Homo sapiens: one gene and its partners. The protein of the gene in region 2 purifies or fractionates together with the protein of the main gene of each other region. This does not show direct contact. Each region holds a gene or a part of one and is shown on either strand. Other genes may lie near its edges. The genes, in order: CR2, MFSD2B, ARHGEF1, ENPP1 and MARVELD2.

Region 1 (3,518 bases), on a different chromosome or scaffold from region 2:
CTTTCTGAGAATTTTCTCTTCATTCTTGCAATCCAAACTGCAACTCAGCCTACAATTTACCTATTTTGTTGAAATTCTGTATCCTGATCTCAAAGATGATTCTAAATAGGAAGTAGCAAGGTCAAAAGATATATGGAACTGGCTGATAAAAACCGAAAAGCTATGAGCTGGTCACCAGTCCCCGCCCCAGACCACAGATAAATTGTTATAGAAGGGACCTAGGGTGGCTTACTTTTTGCATGGAATAAAGTTGGCAGTGTGTAATCTCCTGGAATGTTTTAGATGTAAGCATTTACTCACTATGAAATAACTTATAATCAAAGGACAGTAAACAAAGGAACGTGTGGTAGGATTGGGGGCCATGAGGAAGATGGGTAAGTCATAGCTGTGTGCCTAGAGCTACTCAAACCAAGTGTAAACCCTCCTGGCTACTCACTTTGGTGTGCAGATGCTCAATTTCCCTCTGGAAGGGGACAAGAGGAATTAAATAGGGTGCAATAAAGAGATTGTTTTACTTACATTCATTAAAAGGCATGTCATTATCCCAGGTTACAATATTGTCTGAGATAATACATGTAGCAGATGAGTCACCAAAGAGTAGATATCTAAAGACAAAGAGATAAGAAATCTCGCGGCACACGTTTACCCTGTAACAAAACTGCACATCCTGCACATGTACCCCAGAACTTAAAATAAAAATAAAAATAAAGAGTGATCATCTCCCAGCTAGACTTACATTTTAGAAAAACTTAGTTCTTTCTCTACTGAAAGAATAGCAGAGAATAGAATATCATTTATGACAAGCAGGGGTGACAGATTAAGGACTCATACAATTTAAAGCCAAATGAAATTCAAGCTCCTGGTCAGTAGCACTGGAGACTTAAAACTGGAAGAGAGCAGCCAAAACTTCCTTCTCTTCTAGGGATCCTCTCTAGCTGGTAATCTTGAAGCAGTGTCTCTGGAGTGGATCAGGGAGGTGATTCCTTTTTGCTTATTTATTTTAAAAAGTATGTGGCAATTACTCAGATCTCTTTTGGAAGAGTGATGGTTTCTGGTTGGAACTGCTGTTCTGGTATCCATGTACCCAGGAACTGTCTCCTGCCAACTCACCCTTTATTACAAGAATATGTCATTGTCAACCCAAATGCAATACCCATGTGTGTAATCACAGAGTCCTAAAGGAGTTCTCTATGACTCACACATGATTTATCTACAAAAGAAAACCAAATCAACCCAAACAGAATTTGAGGCTGGGATTCAGGAGACTTTTTGGAGACTTTTTGTGTTTTATATTAAATCTCAACCTGACTGGACTTGCTGACAGGCCTGCTTATGTTTACTCACAGAAATTCTTACATTTACAAAACTTTCCAACGGATCAGTCAACTCTAGAACACTACTTGTTTAATGCACACAGTCTGCATTTCTGTGCATGGATGCCAACTTTATTTGTGGTCAGTTATAACTTATAGTCTTCATTTTCCATTTTTATACATATTCTGTTAATCTATGATATCATCTACCAAGTCTTCTGCCTTAAAAATCTCACAGTGATCATTTCCTTTTTGTAACTCATCCTCTAACTCATCCTCTACTCTCTTCTCTTCATTCAATTACTTACTGAAGTTTAGTGACTGGACTCCAGAAATCTCTCTCCAAACCAACTATTTTGTCATTGCAGTAGTCTCTCATTGGATCACTGAATGACATAATTTACTTTTCTAATTGTTCTCCCTTGGGCTGGTACACCTTCTATACTACTGCACATTTATCTTTCTAAAACACAAATGTGGTCATGCCACTCTGCACATTTAAAAACTTACTATGACTTACCACTGTTTATAGGGAAAAAATGCATATATTTTTTTACAAGTAAGCTCCAATCCATTTAATCAACTACCATTCCTCACTATGTAGCCTATACTCCAACAACACTGATTTTTTCCAGAGACATCATGTTCTTGCACACTTATGCTTTTGCAAATGCTGTTTCCTCTGCTCAGAGGGCCTATAGTTCTCTAATTCTTCTAGGTAGCATTTATGATTTATTTCTCTATGACCTCATAGCACTTCTTAAATAAGAGAACTACCTCATAGTACAATATATATTTAAGAGTTGGCCTTTACAACTAGTGTAGGAGTTTCTCAAAGGCAAAGACTATCAGATTCATTTTTATGTCACTCCCAGGCCCCACTGTCTGGTCTAGAGCTTAGTATCTAGTAGTTACTTAAAAGTATTTTTTGAATTGAATGGGATGAGGATGAGGTAATATTAACATCTCTTGTCTCTAACTTCTAACCTCACCCTAACACAGTATGGATACCATAGATCAAAGTCATAAAGATCACAGGATGAATAGGTTTGGCCAGCTATCATGACTTAACCCTCATACCCAGTGCCCCTAGGAGTAAAAGGAAGCATGGAGCACTCAGGAGCCCTCTTCACTTGAGATGACATGTGAATTTACTGGTCTTTTATCTTAAACATAACATGTTATCTCATCCAGATACAGCGACAGACCCAAATATGCCTCTATTACAGGATTACTCACCTTTACAGAACTGCTGAGCATCTGACCACTTGAAGATCTCTAGGGAGGTGACAAAGAATGCCTCTTGATATACCCAAGAAAGCATTTGTATTTGCAAGATATCTCAACAGCAAACTTAAGATTGGTTACTCTGAATTTTAGGCTTAGCAAAAGGAAACCTTGGCAGAAACTTACCCTGACCTGAGGACCTGAGACAAAGGCTACAGAAACATAAAAACCAAGAGAGGCTAAAACCTCTTCTCTGCTTCTGCCTTGTTACCAATTATCCTGAAAACTTTGATCTTTAGAATGAAAGTCTAAAATAGGGCAATATTTTATGGAATGAAGAATGCATATCATTGCAGTAAGGGTGAATATACACAGAAATAAGCTCAGAGGTTCAGAGAATTTTTAGGGTAGACTTCAGAGATGGAGAAAGTAATTTTTCATAAAATTTCAGAAAATCCTCAGAATTGTTCCATCTCCTTCACCCTTACAAGTAAAAATTAGTGGTTTTAGTTTGTTTGCTTGTTTTTTCACAGTGAGGTCAGAGTCTGGGGAAAACAGGAAAGGCATGTGGCAAGGGCCTTGAAGGATGATTACATATGTTTTGATTTTTTTTTATAAGGGTGGTAGGGGGAGCGGATATTAATATTTTTCCCAGCTTCAATGAGGTCTTATTTATACACAAAAAAACTGCACATAACTAATGTACGCTATTTGTGAATTTGTGGGACAAAAAGGTAAAAATCTTTAAATACAAACTTTCCCAGGATAGCATAAGAAACTAAAGTATATAAGAGATCTTGTAAAAGCTCAGTACACATATGATCCTGAAAATTACTTTAATGAATTTACATAACTATCTTAGCTATTAAACCGTTAATGCCTAGAGAGGAGAAAATATGTTGATTATTCTTCATTATTTTATTCTGTTAATCTAGTAGAGTAATATGCCACCAAAGAGAACTCAGTAAATACTTTCTG
Region 2 (3,518 bases):
TGGACATTGGGACACTGAGCTGTACTTCCTCCGTGAGGCCTCGCATGGCCTTCAGCCCAGCCTTCCCACACTCAGTGCCCCAGGCCAGGCCTGGGAGTCTTGGAGGCTTCATCCAGCCCCGTGCCATCTGGGGAGGGAGAGTCCCCAAGAATGTCTCTGAACTCCTTATCACTCACAGTCAGTCCCCAGTGCACCTGCGATATTATCCAGTCTTGTCTCCTAACCACCCAGTGGGTTTCTGCTAGGAAATAGGGCTGTGACAAACAGTGACCTCAGGGCCAGGACCAGGTGCCTGGATCCTAAGGACTGAGCGGTTGCTCACCAAGGCATGAGCCGTCCAGACCCTGTCCTCTGGCTCCTGTTGATGAAGAACCCAGCCACAGGGTCAGCAGCCGCCCCAGACACTTTTCCCCCAAACAGAACAAGTGACACCTGGGCGGCAGGGATCTGAAACAGACAGGGGAGGGGATAGAGAGCTGAGGCCCAGCAGCAGCAGAGAGCCCATCCAGGCCTGCTTGCCATCAAGAGGGAGGCCTGGGAACCGGGACCGGAGGGCAGAGCCACAGTGTCAAGGGCTCCTCAGCCTTCCCCAGGATGCTGATCCCGGGGCTGAGTCCAGGGGAGGGAGCTGAGTGCTGCCGCCCTGCACACTCCCATTAGTACTCATGTCAGCCACTGCGGAGAGGACTCCAGGGCCCTCATCTGGGGCTGGCTCAGAGCAAGGAGGGTGCCTCTGGGCTGACAGAGGTGGACACTGTGTTTCACAATGGAAAGGATTCACTGGTTTTTCTGACTATGTAAATAATACACTCATTAGAAAAACATTCTGGCTCAGAGCAAGGAGGGTGCCTCTGGGCTGACAGAGGTGGACACTGTGTTTCACAATGGAAAGGATGCATTGTTTTTTCTGACTATGTAAATAATACACTTATTAGAAAAACACTCAAACTATGCAGGAAAATACTAAGCAAAGCTCATCTGAAATCGCAGCATCCCAAGACAACTGCCAGAATCGTTTGGATGATCAGCCTTTCATAGGCTTCTTCATGTGTGCTTGAGATTGATCAGTTTATATAAATGGGATCATATCAGACTGTCATCTTAAACATTCGTGGATACCTCATTTTATTATTTTATTTTATTTTTTAATTGAGACAGGGCCTCGCTCTGTTGCCCAGGCTGGAGTGCAGTGGCACCATCTCGGCTCACTGCAACCACTGCCTCTTGGGCTCAGGTGATTCTCCCACCTCAGCCTCCCAAGTAGCTGAGACCACAGGCACGTTCCTCTACACCGAGCTAATTTTTGTATTTTTAAATTTTTTTTTTTTTTGTGGAGGTGGAGTTTTGCCATGTTGCCCAGGCTGGTCTTGAACACCTGAGCTTAGACGGTCCTCCCGCCTTGACCTCCCAAAGTGCTGGGTGTGTGAGCCACCATACCCGGCTGGATACCTCATTTTTTTGTTGTTGGTTTTTGTTTTGTTTTTGAGAGGGAGTCTTGCTCTGTCGCCCAGGCTGGAATGTGGTGGTGCAATCTTAGCTCACTGCAACCTCCACCTCCTGGGTTCAAGCAATTATCCTGCCTCAGCTTCCTGAGTAGCTGTGACTACAGGCGTGTGCCACCACGCCTGGCTAATTTTTGTATATTTAGTAGAAATGGGGTTCACCATATTGGTCAAGCTGGTCTTGAACTCCTGACCTCAAGTGATCCTCCCTCCTCGGCCTCGCAAAGTGCTGGGATTACAGCTGTGAGCCACCATGCTCGGCTGGATACCTCATTTTAAAAATTTGGTTTTACTTACCCTCCATTCTCCATCATTCCCTCCGGTAGCCAACATTAACGAGTTGGTGTATATCCTTCTAGAATTTTCTCCATGCTCACATTTTAAACATGGACAGATACATATGTATATATACATATCCATCCACACACACACATATGGAGCCTGTCTTTGTTTTGTTAAAATGGGATCATTTTATATACTCTTCTCTAAAACTAACTTTTCTTTTTCACCAGAGCATCATGGAAATCACTCTAAGTCAACTGGTATAGATCATTATTTTGAATGGCTGCATGATAGTCTATTTGATAGTGATGTTAGTGTAGTCTGTTGACTTCTGTGGGCCACACTGGAAGAAGAAGAATTGTCTTGGCCAGGCACGGTGGCTCACGCCTGTAATCCCAGCACTTTGGGAAGCTGTGGTGGATGGAACACCTGAGATCAGGAGTTCGAGACCAGCCTGGCCAACATGGCGAAACCCCGTCTCTACTAAAAACACAAAAATTAGCTGTAGACTGGGCGCGGTGGTCCACGTCTATAATCCCAGCACTTTGGGAGGCTGAGGTGGGTGGATCACGAGGTCAGGAGTTCAAGACCAGCCTGGCCAGCATGGTGAAACTGTTGTCTCTACTAAAAATACAAAAAATTAGCCAGGCATGATGGCACACACCTGTAATCCCAGCTACTCTGGAGGCTGAGGCAGGAGAATTGCTAAACCCGGGAGGCAGAGGTTGCAGTGAGCCGAGATCATGCCATTGCACTCCAGCCTGGGTGACAGAGCGAGACTCCATCTCAAAAAAAAAAACAAACAACAAATTAGCCGAGTGTGGTGGTGTGCACCTGTGATCCCAGCTACTCGGGAGGCTGAGGCATGAGAATCGCTTGAACCTGGGAGGCAGAGGTTGCAGTGAGCCCCAAGATCACACCACTGCACTCCAGCCTGGGCAACAGAGTGAGACTCTGTCTCAAAAAAAAAAAAAAAAAAAGAATCGTCTTGGGCCACATATAAACACATAAAATACACTAACACTAATGATAGCTAATGAGCTAAAAAAAAAAAAAAACAAAAAAATTCATACTGTTTTAAGAAAGTTTACAAATTTGTGTGGGGCCGCATTCAAAGCCGTCCCGCCGCGGGTTGGACAGGCTTGGTCTATTATGTGGCTATGATACAGCTTACTTAGCCAACTGCTTCTATATTGTCGGGGATCTACATTGTTTCTCATTTTCCCACTACAAACAGGCTGCAGTAAACATTCTTGAGTACCTTGCCCTCATTGGCTTCTGGCTTTTTGTTGAGCTCGTGTCAGAAGTGCTGTCTACAAGGATAGTGGGAGCAGAAGCAGAGGTGGGGGTGGAAGGACCAGACCCCAAGGAAGATGCCAGCAGAGACTGGGCTACTGCCCACACTTACCTGTGCTATATCAAGCAGGAAAAGCTGCAGGTAAAAGGCTGTGGCGCTGGAGGCTATCTGGTTGGGGACCCCACCAATGCCATAGCACACCTTTGTACAGAATGAGAGGCGACCGGCTCTGCTGTCCTGGAGGAGACACAGGAACTAAGCCCTTCTCCCAACAGACACAAAACAGGTCCCCACACCCCATGACTTCAGTAAACATCCTGAGTCTCTGTGATGTCTTCAGGGCTTTTCCAGCAACCTCTCAGCCCCATTTTGCCCCCATGTCATCCTAAGAGGAAGTGAGACGAAGAGAAAAAAGATCCTAAACCCTGACCTCTAAA
Region 3 (3,518 bases), on a different chromosome or scaffold from region 2:
AACATACAAAAATTAGCCAAGCATAGTGGCGCATGCCTGTAATCCCAGATACTCGAGAGAGTAAGCCAGGAGAATTGCTTGAACCCAGGAAGCAGGAGATGGAGGTTGCAATGAACCCAGATCACTCCACCACACTTCAATCTAGGTGACAGAGCAAGACTGTGTCTCAAAAAAAAAGCACTAAATACAACTGAGCACTGACTTAAAATTTCATTGCAATTAACGAAAATGTAAAGAGTTGTACACGGCTGGTGACTATCACGTTGGACAGGATAGCAATTTCTTTCCCCAGAAAGAATATGCATAATGTACAAAATCGTGCTTTTAGTCTCAGGGGACTTCTAGGGCCCCTGAAACTCACACATATGCCCTCCGGGGATGTGGGGGTCCCTGGATCTGAGGCTGTCAACCACTGTATAATGTGGCTTGATGGTTAGACACTAAACACAGCTGCAAGCTTGCTGGCAGGTGGGATGACTAGCTTGTCCCCATTTGCTCAGGATATTCACAGTTTTATCACTGAAAGCCCAGGCAGGCAAATGAGGACCATTGGTCACTCTGGCCAGCTGCCACAGCGAAAAGGGAAAGGCAGTGGGTTGAGGAATCCTCACTGGTTTTTTTTTTTTTTTTTTTTTTTTGAGACGATCTCGCTCTGTCGCCTAGGCTAGAGTGCAGTGGCGTGATCTCCGCTCACTGCAACCTCCACCTCCCAGGTTCAAGCGATTGTCCTGCCTCAGCCTCCCAAGTAGCTGGAACTACAGGTGCCCACCACCACTCCTGGCTAATTTTTGTATTTTTAGTAGAGATGGGGTTTCACCATGTTGGCCAGGATGGTCTTGATCTCTTGACCTCGTGATCTGCCCGCCTAAGCCTCCCAAATTGCTGGGATTACAGGCATGAGCCACTGCACCCGGCCCCTCAGTGGCTATTTAAGAGGGCAAATGACTCCACCCGGAGAGTTTTTTTTTTTATTTGTTTGTTTTGTTTTGTTTTTTTGAGACGGAGTCTCGTTCTGTCACCAGGCTGGAGTGCAGTGGTGTGATCTCAGCTCACTGCAACCTCTGTCTCCCGGGTTCAAGAGATTCTCCTGCCTCAGCCTCCCGAGTAGCTGGGACTACAAGAGTCCGCCCCCACACCTGGCTAATTTTTGTATTTTTTTAGTAGAGATGGGGTTTCACCATGTTGGCCAGGCTGGTCTTGAACTCCTGACCTTGTGATCCACCTGCCTCAGCCTCCCAAAATGCTGGGATTATAGGCATGAGCCACTGTGCCCAGCCATTTTGTTTTGAGACAAGGTCTCGCTCTGTTGCTTGAGCTGGGGTGCAGTAATGCCATCATAGCTCACTGCAGCCTCAACCTCCTGGGCTCAAGGGATCCTCCCACTTGAGCCTCCCAAGTAGCTGGGACTACAGGCACACACCAACATGCCTGGGCTAATTTTTTTTCTTTTTTAAATTTTTGGTAGAAACAGGGTTTCACCATGTTGCCCAGGCTGATCTTGGACTCCTGGGTTCAAGCAATCCTCTTGCCTTGGCCTCCCAAAGTGCTGGGATTACAAGTGTGAACCACCATGGCTAGCCAGAGAGAGTTTTTTCCCACCAACTTCTAGGAAGCTTTCCTCCCTGCTCTGCCTCATTCCTCTAGCCTGCCCATGAGGTCATGCCCCCTAGTCTGCACCCTCCCCAACATGCTTCCTGCTTTGGTGGCCCTGCAGAGCTGCTGGTGACAGAGGCGGCCCACGTGCGCATGCTGCGGGTGCTGCACGACCTCTTCTTCCAGCCCATGGCAGAATGCCTGTTCTTCCCCTTGGAGGAGCTGCAGAACATCTTCCCCAGCCTGGACGAGCTCATCGAGGTGCATTGTGAGTGCAGAGCCAGGGTCCCTCTGTGTACCCCACTGCCCCACGGGCAGCTCTGCTCTAGCCCTGGGTTCAACCTGCTCGGGAACCCCAGGGTTCACATGGGGTGGGGGCAGATACGCCATCCGGTCCCGAGGATCAGACACAGACACACCTGCAGCCCTACCCCCACCACACCGCAGCAGGCCCCGCACAGCATCTTCCAGACCCTGGTGGAGCATCCCTTTCCTCCTGCCCCCACAGCCCTGTTCCTCGATCGCCTGATGAAGCGGAGGCAGGAGAGTGGCTACCTCATCGAGGAGATCGGAGACGTGCTGCTGGCCCGGGTGAGATGCCCAGCCCTCCCGCTCCTCCCAGCTAGACACATGGAATTCAGGCCCGGGACGGGTCCTGAGCCCACCCTACTCCAGTCCCAGGGTCTGGGCTTCCAGCCTGTCGTACTTTAGTCCCTGTTCTTGCCCATCCCCACTGAGACACCTGCCTGGCCTGAATCTCGCTGTAGTTTGATGGTGCTGAGGGCTCCTGGTTCCAGAAAATCTCCTCCCGCTTCTGCAGCCGCCAGTCATTTGCCTTAGAGCAGCTCAAAGCCAAGCAACGCAAGGACCCTCGGTTCTGTGCCTTCGTGCAGGTGAGGTGGGGTCTGGACTCCAGCTTCCCAGGGAGGAGGGGCCTGGAGACCCAGACTCCTAGGTGCCTGCGCCCTGGGGTGAGCCCAAAGCCTGGGCCATCGCAACACCAGCATGTTTCCCGCAGGAAGCTGAGAGCCGCCCGCGGTGCCGCCGCCTGCAGCTGAAGGACATGATCCCCACGGAGATGCAGCGGCTGACCAAGTACCCCCTGCTCCTGCAGAGCATCGGGCAGAACACAGGTACCGCGGGCCTGGATCTCTGGGCCTCGGCTCTCCTCTTTTTTTTTTACATTTTTTTTCTCACTCATTTTCATCAGTGATACCATCACAGCTCACTGCAGCCTCAACCTCCCAGGATCTACCATCCTCCCACCTCAGCTCCCCAAGTAGCTGGGACCCCAAGGGCACACCACCATGCCCAGCTAATTTTTTTAGTTTTTTTTTTTAGAGACGGGGTCTCGCCATGTTGCCCAGGCTGGCTTTGAACTCCTGGTCTCAAGCTATCCTCCCGCCTCAGCCTCCCAAAGTGCTTGGATTACAGGCGTGAGCCACCATGCCCGGCCAGCTGTCCTTTGTCTAACCTTGGCTGCCCAATCTGGAGCCTCCAGGGCAGGGGTTCACCAGAGCTGCTCTCTCCCTTGCCTGCAGAAGAGCCCACAGAACGGGAGAAAGTGGAGCTGGCAGCCGAGTGCTGCCGGGAAATTCTACACCACGTCAACCAAGCCGTGCGTGACATGGAGGACCTGCTGGTGAGCCTGGGCTGGCCCCACACCCGGGACAGTGGATGGTGTGAGAGCAGGGGGTGGACCCTACCTCAGCCTGTCCAGAAGTCACACCCCACCCCTTGGCTTGTCTCCCTCAAGGGTCACTGTGTCCAGGGGTTGGCTTGGCCCTCAGCATCTCCCTCTCAGGGTCATTGGAGGTCAGGCCCAACCCTCAGCTTGCCCGCATCAGAAGTTGGTCTTGGCTCTCATCTTACCAATGTGGGTCACTGCAGGTCAGCCCCAGCACTTAGCTTGTCCCCATAATGCT
Region 4 (3,518 bases), on a different chromosome or scaffold from region 2:
CAGTCATTATAAAATTTTACTTAATGCTTATGAAAGCACTCATGTGAAAAGCTTCAGCATGAAGTGTAATCACCACATTCAGTTTCAAAGTTCAAATGCCCATTCCTATGATGGGTAAACACCTACCATAGCGCAAAGAAGGAGAGTGATTGTGGGTAATGACAGAGGAGGAAAAGTGAAGGGGGTAACAGCTTCTCCCAGAGGAGGGGGTGGTCCCTGTTCCATGCCCATCTTGTCTCCTTAAACAGGAACAGCCAACAGGCCTACCAGTCCTTGTACTCTATGCAGCTACTTCCCCTGCTGGAAATGAGCAGCTGCCTTCTTCTCCCTAAGGTTTGTCCTCTTTTATCTGATTCTTGGAAACGTTTTTTTAAGTTTTGCCAGGTTCTTTGTTCTTTCATGAATGAACTGATGGAAATTTTCTATGGAAGTTACTTACCTCACTTAAGAAGCACACAGCAGCTCTCGCCTATAATCCTAGCACTTTGGGAGGCCAAGGCGGGGGGATTGTCTGAGCTCAGGAGATCAAGACCAGCCTGAGCAACACAGTGAAACCCCATCTCCACTAAAATACAAAAAGCCAGGTGTGGCATGCGCCTATAATCCCAGCTACTCAGGAGGCTGAGGCAGGAGAATTGCTAGAACCCCGGAGGTGGAGGTTGCAGTGAGCCGAGATCATGCCACTGCAGTCTAGCCTGGGCCACAGAGCGAGACTCTGTCTCAAAAAAAAAAAAAAGGACTGATGTGAGGCATGACAGTAGAAATCAGGATAGGCTGGAGGCAGTGGCTCGAGCCTGTAATCCCAGCACTTTGGGAGGCCGAGGCGGGCAGATCACAAGGTCAGGAGATCGAGACCATCCTGGCTAACACGGTGAAACTCCATTCTCTACTAAAAATACAAAAAATTAGCCAGGCGTGACGGCAGGTGCCTGTAGTCCCAGTTACTCGGGAGGCTGAGCCAGGAGAATGGCGTGAACCTGGGAGGCGGAGCTTGCAGTGAGCCAAGATCTTGCCACTGCACTCCAGCCTGGGTGACAGAGCATCTCAAAAAAAAAAAAAAAAAAAAAAAAAAAAAAGAAATCAAGATAAATAAAGGTTTCACTTTGCATTTGAAAAGCTAAGAACAGCCTTTATTGGAGAAAGTAGGATAAAGACATTTCCATATATGTTCATGGGAATTTACCATTCAAATTTACCATTCAAACTGGGGGAGTAGAGATCAGTCACTTTTGCCATCTTATCTGTTTAAAACTCTTTCAAGAAAAGAAAAGAAAGGAGGAGTCTCTTTCAAGAAAAGAAAAAAAGGAATACTGTGTAAGAACCACAGAAAAAAAGCTAAGTAGGAGCAGATGTGGGTGCTCTTTCCTTAACAGTCAGCATAGAATGTAGAGACTGACATTTTCTTTAAGAACAGATTATTATAACTAAGCAAGAAAAAGTATGTGTACATAAGTTGGTCACAGTGACACTTGTAGAAAATATAAGTAGCTGTAAATGGGAAAATGTCAAAAATGTTCCATCCAAGGAATGTTAGAAGGTCCCTTCTTTGCCTTGCTCATCTGAAAAGTTCCAATTCACCCTACAAGCCTTAGCCCCAAGGCTGGGAAGCCACTGCCTCTACTACCAAGAAGCATCCAGTGTCTCTTTTGTGCAGCCTGGCACCCCTCCTGTGGCTTCATGATAACATCTATCACTCTTTAGGGATCATTTACACTTCTGCTGTCTCTTCTCCCTAAGACAGAGAAAATTGTCACTTGTTCTTTTTTGTATTCTTGGCGTCCAGCAAAGGGAACAGACATCTATCCATTTAATTAAGCTCTGCTAAGATGCTTTGAGTTAAATTGTGTATGTTTGTGTGCTGGAAAAATATGTAAAAATCAGTGAGACACTTCTACAAAGGCAGAGTAGACATCCTTCTGCTAAATGCATATAAAAATCCTGGATATTATATTAAAACACAGCAAGACTCTGAATAGTAGACAGAAAATAGGCTAGGAACATTGGGGCCCAAGTAACAACACTGTGATGAGTTCCCTACATTTTCTTTTCAGCTCATATATTTCCAACTTGGAGCTGAAAAAGTCAGCAACCTGGAAATGTCAATAAATGCAGGGGAAAAAAAAGCCCTAAGAGAGTCCTGCTCTCTCCTGCCAAAGGACCAGAAAAGGGTAGCCAAGCAAGGGTAAAAAAGGCTGTACTCCAACCAAACACCATGGAAAAACACCATGGCCCCACCCATACCAGCAAATGCTGAGTGGGGAGTCCAGACTTACACTCTCACCAAGCTGTAAAGAGGTGCCCCAACTCCCTGACTTTTGTATTCTTGGTATCCAGCAAAGGGAACAGGCATCTATCCATTTAATTAAGCTCTGCTAAGATGCTTTGAGTTAAATTGTGTATGTTTGTGTGCTGGAAGAATACAACTCCAGAGTGGTGTCGGAGAAGGCTGTGTAGGCTACTGGGAATTTCATTCCCACCTGGTGTAATGAAGCTCTTCCTGGTCACTCTGTCCCATAGCATTAGTGGAGATTCCCAGGGTGCACCAAAAGGTGCCGCTGCACATTCCAGCCAGGGAAGAATCAATAAAGACCTAATGGGAAACTGAATTCTCACCTTGCCCAGTAGTAATGAGGGGACCCTGTTACTCAGTATAAAGGGAGGCTGACTGGGGAACCTGGACTCCTAGCCACACCTGGTAATAATGAAGCAGTGCTCCCAATTCCCCTGCTGTGGTGGTATCTGAGAAAGTTGGCTAAAGCAGAAGGTTTAAATAAGACCCATAGTCTCATAACATAATACCTAAAAATATCCAGGTTTCAATAAAAAATCATTCCACACACCAAGAAACAGGAAAATGTTTCCGAATGGAAAAAAGACCATCAGTAGATGCAAACAATGAGGTGACAGATGTTGGAATTATCTGATAAGGATTTTACAGCAGCCATCATAAAAATTCTTCAACAAGCAAGTATAAATGCACTTGAAACAAATGAAAACGTAGAAAGTCTCAGCAAAGAGACAGAAATTCTCAGCAAATAGAAGATATAAAGAAAAACTGAATGGAAATTTTAGAAATAAAACATACAATAACTAAAATATAAAAATCAGGAATAAATGGGCTCAACAGCAGAACAGATTAGACAGAATAAAGAATCAGTGAGCTTCGAGACAGAAGAATAAAATTACCTAATCTGAACAACAGAGAGAAGCAGGCTGAAAAAAATATCATATACAGAGCTTCAGGAAACTGCAGGACTGAAAAAAAAAAAAAAAAAAAGCAACTTCCTAAATTATTAAATAATTTTGAGTTGTAAATTGTATTTTCCAAAAGTCTTTGCAGCTGGCCCTTAGGCCGTTGAAGAATGGTCACACGAAGGACATATAAAAATCTTTGGTGTACTGATATTATACCTCAATTGGACCTATGTAGCCTAAAAGTTAATGCAGTCTTTGAAGGTTCACAGGTAGGGATAAAAAGCTACAGTCAAGGTAGTAAAGAAATCAAGTTCATTGTGTCA
Region 5 (3,518 bases), on a different chromosome or scaffold from region 2:
CCTGTCTTAAAAATATTAAATAAATAAAACAATAACAAAAAAGATGGGGTTATCCATTTTAATTTTGAGACCTTCATAGTATCAAGTACAATACCATGTGCCCAGTTTAAGTCTTCAATAATGAGTCTTGGCAGGGTGTGAATGAAAAAATTTTTTTAAGTCTTCAAACAAAATACTTATAAACAATTCGAGAGAGAAATTCAGCATACCTTAAAACTAGTAGTTAATTCACAAATGGTTTCCTTCTTTCTGTATATGGGTGCAGAGCATTGATTTCATGAATCAACAGGCTTAGTAAAAGTGCATTTTCTATGCTTTATTTTTGAGGTGGATTGAATACCTTCTGAGATACTTGAGTCTCTCCTTGGGAACAGTAAATCACCTGAATTGCCCTCGAAAGAGTAATAGTAATGGTCATTGCTGCCATTCTCTATTGTGCCTTGGGGGAGCCTTAGCCTTTGGTGATGTTGTCTCTGAGATTCAACTTTTTTACATCTAGTTTCAATTGTTAATATTTTAGACTGGAAGAAGCAAGTCCTCTAAAATGACTTTGTTGATTTAGGAAGGGGAAGGGCTGTGCATACCCTGTGTTTTAACAGACTGCCTCTCCTAGGCTATTCCAAGTGAAAATGAAGAATATTTGCTGACCCATCAAATTTCGCTACACTCAAACTCTTAGTATTTTGATTTAGATGTTTGAGGAAATGACTCTACTTGGGAGTGTGTTCGCGTTCTGTTGTGTTAAAGTTTTGTCACTTTTGTTTTTTATTTTATTGTTTAATAGGGCTCACAGATAAATTAGATTTATAAATCATTTTTCATTTCTTTTTTTTTTTCTTTTTTTTAGAGACAGAGACTCACTGTGTCAGCCAGGCTGGAGTGCAGTGGCGCAATCTCGACTCACTGCAACCTCTGCCTCCCGGGTTCAAGCGGTCTATACCTCAGCCACCTGAGTAGCTGGGATCACAGGCGCATGCCACAACGCCTGGCTAGTTTTTGTATTTTTAGTAGAGATAGTGTTTCACCATGTTGGTCAGGCTGGTCTCAAACTCCTGACCTGAAATGATCCGTCTGTCTTGGCCTCCCAAAGTGCTGGGATTACAGGCATGAGCCACCGTGCCCGGTATCATATTTATCATTTTTGTATATCATAATAATTAGACATGATCCTGTTGGTCTCCTAAATACTTTTTGCTACTACATGAATAAAATCAGCATCATTGAGAGGATAAGTAACTAATCATAAGTGATAACTTTAAATTTGGCCACAGGTGTGAAAATCACAAATGTCAAATGATGGAAGATCCAGGAATCGGGACAGGCGCTACGATGAGGTCCCAAGCGACCTGCCCTATCAAGATACCACCATAAGAACCCACCCAACTCTTCATGACAGTGAGCGGGCAGTGAGCGCTGATCCCTTGCCACCACCCCCTCTCCCATTACAGCCACCATTCGGCCCAGACTTCTACTCAAGTGACACAGAAGAACCAGCTATAGCGCCAGATCTCAAACCAGTAAGGCGCTTTGTCCCTGACTCCTGGAAGAACTTTTTCAGAGGGAAGAAAAAGGACCCCGAATGGGATAAGCCGGTGTCTGATATCAGGTACATCTCCGATGGAGTGGAGTGTTCACCACCAGCCTCTCCAGCAAGACCAAACCACCGTTCGCCCCTCAACTCCTGCAAAGATCCCTACGGAGGGTCAGAAGGAACCTTTAGTTCCCGGAAAGAGGCTGACGCAGTGTTTCCCCGGGATCCCTATGGATCTCTAGACCGACACACACAAACAGTTCGAACATACAGTGAGAAGGTGGAGGAGTATAACCTGAGATACTCCTACATGAAGTCGTGGGCAGGCCTGCTGAGAATACTGGGTGTGGTGGAGCTGCTTTTGGGGGCCGGTGTCTTTGCTTGTGTCACAGCTTACATTCACAAGGACAGTGAGTGGTACAACTTGTTTGGATATTCACAACCGTATGGCATGGGAGGCGTTGGTGGATTGGGCAGTATGTATGGGGGCTATTACTACACTGGCCCTAAGACCCCTTTTGTACTCGTGGTTGCTGGATTAGCTTGGATCACCACCATTATTATTCTGGTTCTTGGCATGTCCATGTATTACCGGACCATTCTTCTGGACTCTAATTGGTGGCCCCTAACTGAATTTGGAATTAACGTTGCCTTGTTTATTTTGTATATGGCCGCAGCCATAGTCTATGTGAATGATACCAACCGAGGTGGCCTCTGCTACTATCCGTTATTTAATACACCAGTGAATGCAGTGTTCTGCCGGGTAGAAGGAGGACAGATAGCTGCAATGATCTTCCTGTTTGTCACCATGATAGTTTATCTCATTAGTGCTTTGGTTTGCCTAAAGTTATGGAGGCATGAGGCAGCTCGGAGACATAGAGAATATATGGAACAACAGGAGGTAAGTGATTTCATAATCCCTCATTTGTGTGTGTATGTTTGTTTTTTCTGTTATTTGCTCCCTTGTTAAAAAATGTATAGCGCTCAAAACAGAAAGCTTTCATAGAAATCTTTTCTTTCTTCCTTTTTTTTTTTTTCAATGGTCTGAGATTCAAAAGTCCTAGTGCAATATCTGACATGCTTTGACTGGGATAACCCACTCTGGTGTTTGGCTGTTACATAACATTGCAAGTAGACACCAGATGTGTAATATATAGTTTGTTGGCTGCATTATTATGTCTGTCTGAAGCTTAAGGGAAAGATACAGCTACCGAATTTTTGCAAAGAAGAAGAGTGTACTCAGTAAAATAAGTGTCTCATCATTAAGTTTGAGAACAATCTTAATTCTTTAATAAAAGCTCCTAATTTTTCATTTAAATGTTACAATTTACTTTCTCCCAGTGAGTTGAATAAAGCCAAATAAGAATGTGGTAAACCATGTTTGATTTTTTTTAAGTATTGAGAGATTGAATTGTAATGAACATACTCTGAAAACTTGCCCAGTGGTTTTGATAATTTGTCTTTATTTGAGGAAGACGTATGGTCCAAAATGAGAATGGAAGTCCTACATTGTTTTTATATTTCTAGAACTTAATAGGATAATAATGAGAATAAATAATAATGAGAACAATAAGAAGAATAAAATAATAATAACTGAAGGATGAGATAAAAGCCCTACCTAAAATTATTTTGGTTGAACAGTAGCAAATGTTAGAGTATGTTCCACTGGCTACATTATTCTCTGAAGTAAGTTGATATTTTGCCTTCTTCCAAGGATATGTGTATAGTAGACTCTCCTATGCCACTGAAATTTTCAGTATTTACCTTAAAATTTTTTGTAATTTTAAGTTAACTATATTATGAATTTTTGCTTTTCCACTTTTCCTAAGACTTCTTAGATACTATACAATTGCACATGGTATATATTGGGCAAAACTATAAATAAAAATTAAATCCTGTCCTTATAACAGCACACACTGACATATGTATTTTGTTTTTAATCTTTTGCTTGAATCTGATGCATAGCAACAAATAGCGCTTTGGTTTT

The links.
Region 1: the proteins of MFSD2B (region 2) and CR2 purify together in Homo sapiens (affinity purification with mass spectrometry; one large-scale study listed by BioGRID and IntAct). This does not show direct contact.
Region 3: the proteins of MFSD2B (region 2) and ARHGEF1 purify together in Homo sapiens (affinity purification with mass spectrometry; one large-scale study listed by BioGRID and IntAct). This does not show direct contact.
Region 4: the proteins of MFSD2B (region 2) and ENPP1 purify together in Homo sapiens (affinity purification with mass spectrometry; one large-scale study listed by BioGRID and IntAct). This does not show direct contact.
Region 5: the proteins of MFSD2B (region 2) and MARVELD2 purify together in Homo sapiens (affinity purification with mass spectrometry; one large-scale study listed by BioGRID and IntAct). This does not show direct contact.

Annotation. Positions count from the first base shown.
Region 1 is NC_000001.11:207,460,828-207,464,345, reverse strand, and holds part of CR2 (complement receptor type 2 isoform 1 precursor), read right to left. Parts: intron 1-3,518. UniProt on the Homo sapiens protein: Serves as a receptor for various ligands including complement component CD3d, HNRNPU OR IFNA1. When C3d is bound to antigens, attaches to C3d on B-cell surface and thereby facilitates the recognition and uptake of antigens by B-cells.
Region 2 is NC_000002.12:24,013,085-24,016,602, reverse strand, and holds part of MFSD2B (sphingosine-1-phosphate transporter MFSD2B), read right to left. Parts: intron 3,319-3,518; coding exon 3,193-3,318; intron 448-3,192; coding exon 323-447; intron 1-322.
Region 3 is NC_000019.10:41,900,173-41,903,690, forward strand, and holds part of ARHGEF1 (rho guanine nucleotide exchange factor 1), read left to right. Parts: intron 1-1,714; coding exon 1,715-1,861; intron 1,862-2,101; coding exon 2,102-2,184; intron 2,185-2,360; coding exon 2,361-2,486; intron 2,487-2,611; coding exon 2,612-2,726; intron 2,727-3,134; coding exon 3,135-3,235; intron 3,236-3,483; coding exon of another isoform or gene 3,484-3,501; exon of another isoform or gene 3,502-3,518. UniProt on the Homo sapiens protein: Seems to play a role in the regulation of RhoA GTPase by guanine nucleotide-binding alpha-12 (GNA12) and alpha-13 (GNA13) subunits. Acts as a GTPase-activating protein (GAP) for GNA12 and GNA13, and as guanine nucleotide exchange factor (GEF) for RhoA GTPase.
Region 4 is NC_000006.12:131,891,508-131,895,025, reverse strand, and holds part of ENPP1 (ectonucleotide pyrophosphatase/phosphodiesterase family member 1), read right to left. Parts: 3' UTR 1-3,518. UniProt on the Homo sapiens protein: Nucleotide pyrophosphatase that generates diphosphate (PPi) and functions in bone mineralization and soft tissue calcification by regulating pyrophosphate levels.
Region 5 is NC_000005.10:69,418,100-69,421,617, forward strand, and holds part of MARVELD2 (MARVEL domain-containing protein 2), read left to right. Parts: intron 1-1,271; 5' UTR 1,272-1,286; coding exon 1,287-2,432; intron 2,433-3,518. UniProt on the Homo sapiens protein: Plays a role in the formation of tricellular tight junctions and of epithelial barriers.